2 linked regions of the Homo sapiens genome follow. The protein of the gene in region 1 binds, or shares a complex with, the protein of each later gene. Each region holds a gene or a part of one and is shown in the gene's direction. Other genes may lie near its edges.

Region 1 (3,822 bases):
GTTCCTCTTCTTAGCTCCAGATGTGAAGTTCTGTGAGATCAGAAAACATTTTTTGTATTTCTAAGGCCTGGCAAGTAGGCCTTAGAAATGCAAAAAATGGTTTCTGATATCATAGAATTCATAGAATTTTTATGAAATAGGATTTTATCAAATAGAATTGTATTCTATTTTATTCTCATGGAATAAAATAGTTGACTTTTTTAAGGAAAGAAAGTCAGGCCAGGCACAGTGGCTCACACCTATAATCCCAGCACTTTGGGAGGCTGAGGCAGGAGGATCACTTGAGCCCAGAAGTTCAAGACCAGCCTGGGCAACATAGTGAGACCCTATCTCTACACAAAATAAAATAGGCTGGGCATGGTGGCTCACACCTGTTATCCCGACATTTTGGGAGGCTGAGGCAGGTGGATCACTTGAGCCCAGGAGTTTGAGACCAGCTTGGGCAATATGGTGAAACCCCATCTCTACAAAAATTAGCTGGGTGTGGTGGCATGTGCCTTTAGTCCCAGCTACTCCAGAGGCTAAGGTGGGGGGATTGCTTGAGCCTGGGAGGTCGAGGCTGCAGTGGCCCTCATTCCTGGGAAGTCAAGACTGCAGTGGCCCTGATTGTACCACTGCACTCCAGCCTGGGGCAACAGAGTGAGACCCTGTTTTAAAAAGTAAAATAAAAATCAGTGTATTCTTTAATGTCTTTAAAAAAATCGAAACAATAATTTTAGGACTTATATTTTCACCATCTTGCTAGAATTTTCATTTAGTAGCCTGTATCCAAAGGCTCTATAATACTTGGATGCTAATCCCAAACAACTCTTTCTCTTTTTCTTTTTTGAGACAAAAAAAGGGCCTCAGGCACTTCTCCCATCTCAGCCTCCAGAGTAGCTGGGACTACAGGCGCATACCACCACGTCCTGCTAATTTTTTTGTATTTTGTAGAGATAGGGTTTTGCTGTGTTACCCAAGCTAGTCTCGAACCCCTGAACTCAAGCAGTCCACCCACATCAGCTTCCCAAAGTGCTGGAATTACATGCGTAAGCCACCATGACCAGACCCTATTCCCAAGCAATTCATTAATCAAAGCTTGTAAAAATATTCATCTTTAAGCTTACCTGCCTCATTTAGTGCTTTGAGAAAAGACTTCTCATTCCTTCAGGGTAGGAACATTGGGTTTATTGATGGCCACCCATTTCTACCCACCCCTTTTAGATTATTGCAAGAAATCTTTTTATCAATCTTTTTATCCTTCTAGGGTTTGGTCTTAAAGACAGTCTGTGGAACAGTGTATAAGAACACTATTGTGTTGTGCTATCAGATTTACATCTGTAATTCTTTTTTTTTTTTTTTTTGAGATAGAGTCTCGTTCTTTCACCCTTGCTGGAGTCCAGTGGGTCAGTCACAGCTCACTGCAGCCTTAACCTTCTGGACTCAAATGATCCTCCCATCTCAGTTCCCCAGGTAGCTCTAACTACAGACGTGCCACATACCCGGCTAATTTTTTCCTTTTTTGTACAGACGGGGGTCTCACTATGTTTCCTAGGCTGATCTTGAACTCCTGAGCTCAAGCAATCCTCTGCCTCAGCCTCCCAAAGTGCTGGGGTTACGAGCATGAGCCACTGTGCCTGGCCTTTATCTGTAATTCTTGTTTTTTTTTTTGAGATGGAGTCTCACTCCCGTTGCGCAGGCTGGAGTGCAGTGGCGTGATCTCGGCTCACTGCAACCCCCACCTCCTAGGTTCAAGTGATTCTCCTTCCTCAGCCTCCCAAGTAGCTGGGATTACAGGCGTGCGCCACCACACCTGGCTAATTTTTGTATTTTTTAGTAGAGACGGGGTTTCGCCACATTGGCCAGGCTGCTCTCAAACTCCTGACCTCAGGTGATCCACCCATCTCGGCCTCCCAAAGTGCTAGGATTACAGACGTGAGCCACCGCACCGGCCTATCCGTAATTCTTAATCCTTAAACTTCAGCTATTGTATTTCAGCAGTGAAGTCATGAAGTGATTCTAGCTTGGAGATGTCTGAAGTCTAATGCAGAAAATTGTTGAATTCCCAAATGTCACCTTTTTGTGGCATTGTAAATTGAGATATCTACTAATATAAAGAGCCGTGCTTACTACAGTCGTGTGCTGCAGAATGTTTCAGTCAGTGATGGACCACACATACTTTATTTTTACTATATGTTTTCTGTGTTTAGATACACAAATAATTACTATTGTGTTACATTTACCAACAGTATTTAGTATAGTAACATGCTCCACAGGTTTGTAGCCTAGAAACAATAAGCATACCATATAGCCTAGGTTTAGTAGGCTATGCTATGTTTGCACAACAAAATTGCCTAATGTTGCATTTCTCAGAATATATCCCTGTCATTAAGCAATGCATATGACTGTATTTTAAAGATGACATGTTTTGGGGTAAATCCCCAAATGTTTACCTTACAAAAATGACAGTCTCCTTCATGTTGCGTAAGATTAATATTAATTTTTTATGTGTGACTCCCTTGCCAACTTTTTACTCTGTTCTTGCCTTTCCCTGCCACACTAAAGAGAAACATAAAGCAAAAACGATAGAAACTTCAGGATCATCAAGGCCATTTCTTAAAATCAAGAAAGTCATGCTGACAAATTTTAATAAAACTCTTCTGGTAATTCAGACATGCTTCACTTAATGACAGGGACATGGTCTAAGAAATGCAACATTAGGTGATTTTGTTGTGTGAACTTCACAGAGTATACTTATGCAAACCTAGATAGTGTAGTCTACTATACACCTAGGCTGTTTAATATAGCCTGTTGCTCCTGGGCTGCAAACTTGTTCAGCATGTTTCTGTACTGAACACTATAGGCAACTATAATGGTGAGTATGTGTGTATCTAAACATAAAAGGGGTACAGTAAATTATAATTTTTTAAATATATAGAACAGTTAGAACATACAGTATTACAATCTTTTTTGTGTGTGTGACAGAGTGTCCCTGTGTTGCCCAGGCTAGACTGTAGTGGCACGATCTCTACTCACTGCAACCTCTGCCTCCCGAGTTTAAGCTATTCTCCTGCCTCAGCCTCCCAAGTAGGTGGGACTACAGGTGCATGCCACCACACCCAGCTAATTTTTTGCATTTTTAGTAGAGACGGAGTTTTGCCATGTTGGCCAGGCTGGTCTTGAACCCCTGGCCTCAAGTGATTCACCCGCTCCAGCCTCCCAGGCATGAGCCACCGCGCCTGGCAAGTATTATAATCTTAAGTGACCACCATTGTATATGTGGTCCAGTGTTGACCAAGATGTTATGTGGCATATGCCTGTATTAGATTTGGAGTGTAGGTGAAAGAGTTTTTTTCTTTTTTTTTTTTTTAAGAGACAGGATTTAAGAGACAGGATCTCGCTCAGCTGCCTATGTTGGAATGTAGTGGCACAAACATAGCTCACTGCAGTCTTGAACTCCTGAGCTTAAGCGATACTCTTGCCTCAGCCACCCAAGTAGCTGGGACTGCAGGCAAGCACCACCATGCCTGGCTAATTTTTTTATTTTCATTTTTAGAGTCTACGTTGCCCTGGCTAGTCTTAAACTCCTGGCATCAAGTGATACTCGCACCTCAGCCTCCCGAGTTACTGGGATTACAAACATGAGCCACCAAGCCAGGCTTTTATCTTTAGATTAATATTAATTTAGCATGTTATAGTTGTAAAAACACAGAACTAAGAGTAAGGAGTTTTATACCCATTACTGCAACTAACAGCTTTGTGACCTTGGGCAAATATCTTCACTTCTCTGGCCCTTTATCTACATAAGGAAAATTGAGACCAGATAATTCTACATCTCTTGTT
Region 2 (3,822 bases), on another chromosome or scaffold:
ATACAAACTTTAGTGACACTAACGTTAATAAGTTCTGATAACAGGCTGAGCTTGTTGGCTCATGCCTGTAATCCCAGCACTTTGGGAGGCCGAGTTGGGAGGATCACCTGAGGTCAGGAGTTTGAGACCAGCGTGGCCAACATGGTGAAACCCTGTCTCTACTAAAAAAAAAATAGAAATATTAGCTGGATGTGGTGGCACACACCTGTAATCCCAGCTACTCAGGAGGCTGAGGCATGAGAATCTTTTGAACCCAGGAGGCGGAGGCTGCAGTGAGCAGAGATTGTGCCACTGCACTTCAGCCTGTGTGACAGGGTGAGACTCTGTCTCAAAAAAAAAAAAAAAAAAAAAAAAGTTCTGATAACCCATTACCATCAGACCAGGCTGAAGAGTTATCATTTAACTTTAATGATTAAAGTTTTATTTTATTTCAAAGAGAAGAGATTGAAGTCCAGTGTTAAGAATAGCTGTTTGGTGGTTTAATTTGTTCAGAACACAGTGTGACTCAGAAAATAAGGAGCCATTAAACAATAATAATTATTTTGTTTGAACCAGAGTCTCTCTCTGTCGCCCAGGGTGGAGTGCAGTGGTGCACTCGGGTCACTGCATCCTCTGCCTCAGGGTTCAAGCGATTGTCCTGCCTCAGCCTCCCAAGTAGCTGGGACTACAGGTGCATGCCACCATGCCCGGCTAATTTTTTGTATTTTTAGTAGAGACAGGGTTTCACCATGTTGGCCAGGCTGGTCTCGAACTCCTGACCTCAGGTGATCCACCTGCCTCAGCGTCCCAAAGTGCTGGGATTACAGGTGTGAGCCACCGTGCCTAGCCAACAATAATTATTATTATTATATATATGTATATATATATATATGTTTTTTTTAGACGGAGTTTCGCTCTAGTTGCCCAGGCTGGAGTGCAATTGCTCAGTGTTGGCTCACTGCAACCTCTGCCTCCCAGGTTCAAGCGATTCTCCTGCCTCGGCTCCCGAGTAGCTGGGATTACAGGCACATGCCGCAATGCCCGGCTAATTTTTTGTATTTTTAGTAGAGACAGGGTTTTGCCATGTTGGCCAGGCTGGTCTCAAACTCCTGATCTCAGGTGATCCACCCACCTCGGCCTCCCAGAGTGCTGGGATTACAGGCGTGAGCCACCATGGCTGGCCATTAATTACTTTTTAAAACTACATTTATAGGCTGGGCATGGTGGTTCATGCCTGTAGTCCCAGCACTTTGGGAGGCCAATGCGGGTGGATCACTTGAGGCTAGGAGTTTGAGACCAGCCTCGCCAACATGGCGAAACCCTGTCTCTATCAAAAATACAAAAATTAACTGGCCGTGGTGGTGCACACCTGCTATCCCAGCTACTCAGGAGGCTAAGGCACGAGAATTGCCTGAACCCGGGAGGCGGAGGTTGCAGTGAGCCAAGATTGCACTATTGCACTCGAGCCTGGGCAACAGAGAAAGACTCTTTCTCAAAAAAATCCCCCAAACTACACTTATTTGTTTGTTTGTGTATTTATTTATTTGAGATGGAGTCTTGCTCATGTCGCTCAGGCTGGAGTGCAATGGTGCAATCTCGGCTCACTGCAACGTCCGCCTCCCTGGTTCAAGCGATGCTCCTGCCTCAGCCTCCCGAGTAGCTGAGATTATAGGTGCCCGCCACAATGCTCAGCTAATTTTTGTATTTGTAGTACAGACGGCTTTTCACCAAGTAGGTTGGTCTTGAACTCCTGACCTCAGGTGATCCGCCCACCTCGGCCTCCCAAAGTGCCGAAATTTCAGGAGTGAGCCACCACAGCCAGCCCCCAAAACTACATTTATAAGAAATTCACATAATACTGAGATATATAAAGCGTTTTCTCACCTTTTTCAATCACTCTTTTTTTTTTTTTTTTTTTTGAGATGGAGTTTCACTCTTGTTCCCCAGGCTGTGCAGTATAATGGTGCAGTCTTGGCTCACAGCAACCTCTGCTTCCGGGTTCAAGCAATTCTCCTGCCTCAGCCCCCCAAGTAGCTGGGATCACAGGTGCATGCCACCACACCTGGCTAATTTTTGTATTTATAGTAGAGAAGAGGCTTCACCATGTTGGACAGGCTGGTCTTGAACTCCAGACCTCAGATGATCTGCCTGCCTCAGCCTCCCAAAGTGCTAGTATTAGAGGCCTGAACCACTGCACCTGGCCCACTCTTATAACGTTAACCACTGTTAATCGTACAAATCCTTGTAAAAGGTACAACTCCGGCCAGGTGTGATGGCTCACGCCTGTAATCCAAGCACTTTGAGAGGCCGAGGTGGGCGGATTACCTGAAGTCAGGAGTTTGAGATCAGCCTAGCTAACATGGCGAAACCCCGTTTCTACTAAAAATACAAAAAATTAGCTGAGCGTGGTGGCACATGCCTGTAATCCCAGCTACTTGGGAGGCTGAGGCAGGAGAATCGCTTGAACCCGGGAGGCAGAGGTTGCAGTGAGCAGAGATTGCAGTGAGCTGAGATCACTCCATTGCACTCCAGGTTGAGCAACAAGAGTGAAACTCTGTCTCAAAAAAAAAAAAAAAGGTACAAATCCTTTTGACCTATTTTATACAGATAAGGAAATAATAATTTTTTAAGTATGTATAAGAGGGATTTTTTTTTTCTTCATAATGTTGGAGTCATATGCATGTGGCCTGCCACTTAACTTACTCCACATGTGAACAGTTCCATCTTGGTATGTGTATGTCTACTTCATTCTTTTAAATATATTTCATTGTATGGATATATTATAGTTTATGTATTCATACATTATTTGGAAACTTAAGTTATATCTACTTTGTAGTTTTTTTTTTTTTTTAATTTGAGCAAGGGTCTCACTCTGTCACCCAGGCTTTGTGCAGTGGCGTGATCACAGCTGACTGCAGCCTCAACCTCCTGGGCTCAAGTGATCCTCTCACTTCAGCCTCCTGAGTAGCTGGGACCACAGGCATGTACCACCACAACCAGCTATTTAAAAAATTTTGGGGGGGACAAGATCTCACTGTGTTGCCCAGACTGGTCTCAGACTCCTGGGCTCAGGCTGTCTTTCCACCTTGGCCTCCCAGAGCACTGGGATTACAGGTGTGAGGCACTGTGCCTGGCCTATATCTAGTTTTTGACTTTACAGACAGTTTATCAGTGAATACCCATGTACACATATCTTCATATACATGGAAGAGGATAACTGTATGAGGGCCCCTTTCCTCACATACTAGCCAGTATTAGATGTTACTAATCTATTAGTTTCATTTTACATTTCCTTTTTGGTGAGATTGAACTTTTTTTTTTTTGAGATGGAGTCTCGCTCTGTTGCCCAGGTTGGAGTGCAATGGCGTGATCTCAGCTCACTGCAACCTCCACCTCCCGGGTTCAAGCAATTCTCCTGCCTCAGCCTCCTGAATAGCTGGGACTACAGGCACATGCCGCCACACCCAGCTAATCTTTTGTATTTTAGTAGAGACGGGGTTTCACTGTGTTGCCCAGGCTGGTCTCCAACTCCTGAGCTCAGGCAAAGATGTTATTTTAATTATATATTTTTTTTAGAGACAGAGGCTCATCCTATCACCCAGGCTAAAGTGCAATGTCACGATGATAGCTTACTGCAGCCTCCAACTCCTGAGTTCAAGCCATCCTCCTGCCTCAGCCTCCTAAGTAGCTAGGACTATAGGTGTGCATTACCATGCCCAACTAACTGTTTTTTTTTTTTTTTTTTTTGAGACAGGGTCTTCCTCTGTTGCCCAGTTTGGAGTGCAGTGGTGTGATCATGGCTCATTTCAGCCTCAACTTCCCGGGCTCAAGCCTTCCAAGTAG

The links.
Region 2: RBL1 (region 1) and LIN52 share a complex: the UniProt entries of both Homo sapiens proteins name them as parts of the DREAM complex.

Annotation. Positions count from the first base shown.
Region 1 is NC_000020.11:37,089,187-37,093,008, reverse strand, and holds part of RBL1 (retinoblastoma-like protein 1), read left to right. Parts: intron 1-3,822. UniProt on the Homo sapiens protein: Key regulator of entry into cell division. Directly involved in heterochromatin formation by maintaining overall chromatin structure and, in particular, that of constitutive heterochromatin by stabilizing histone methylation.
Region 2 is NC_000014.9:74,091,444-74,095,265, forward strand, and holds part of LIN52 (protein lin-52 homolog), read left to right. Parts: intron 1-3,822.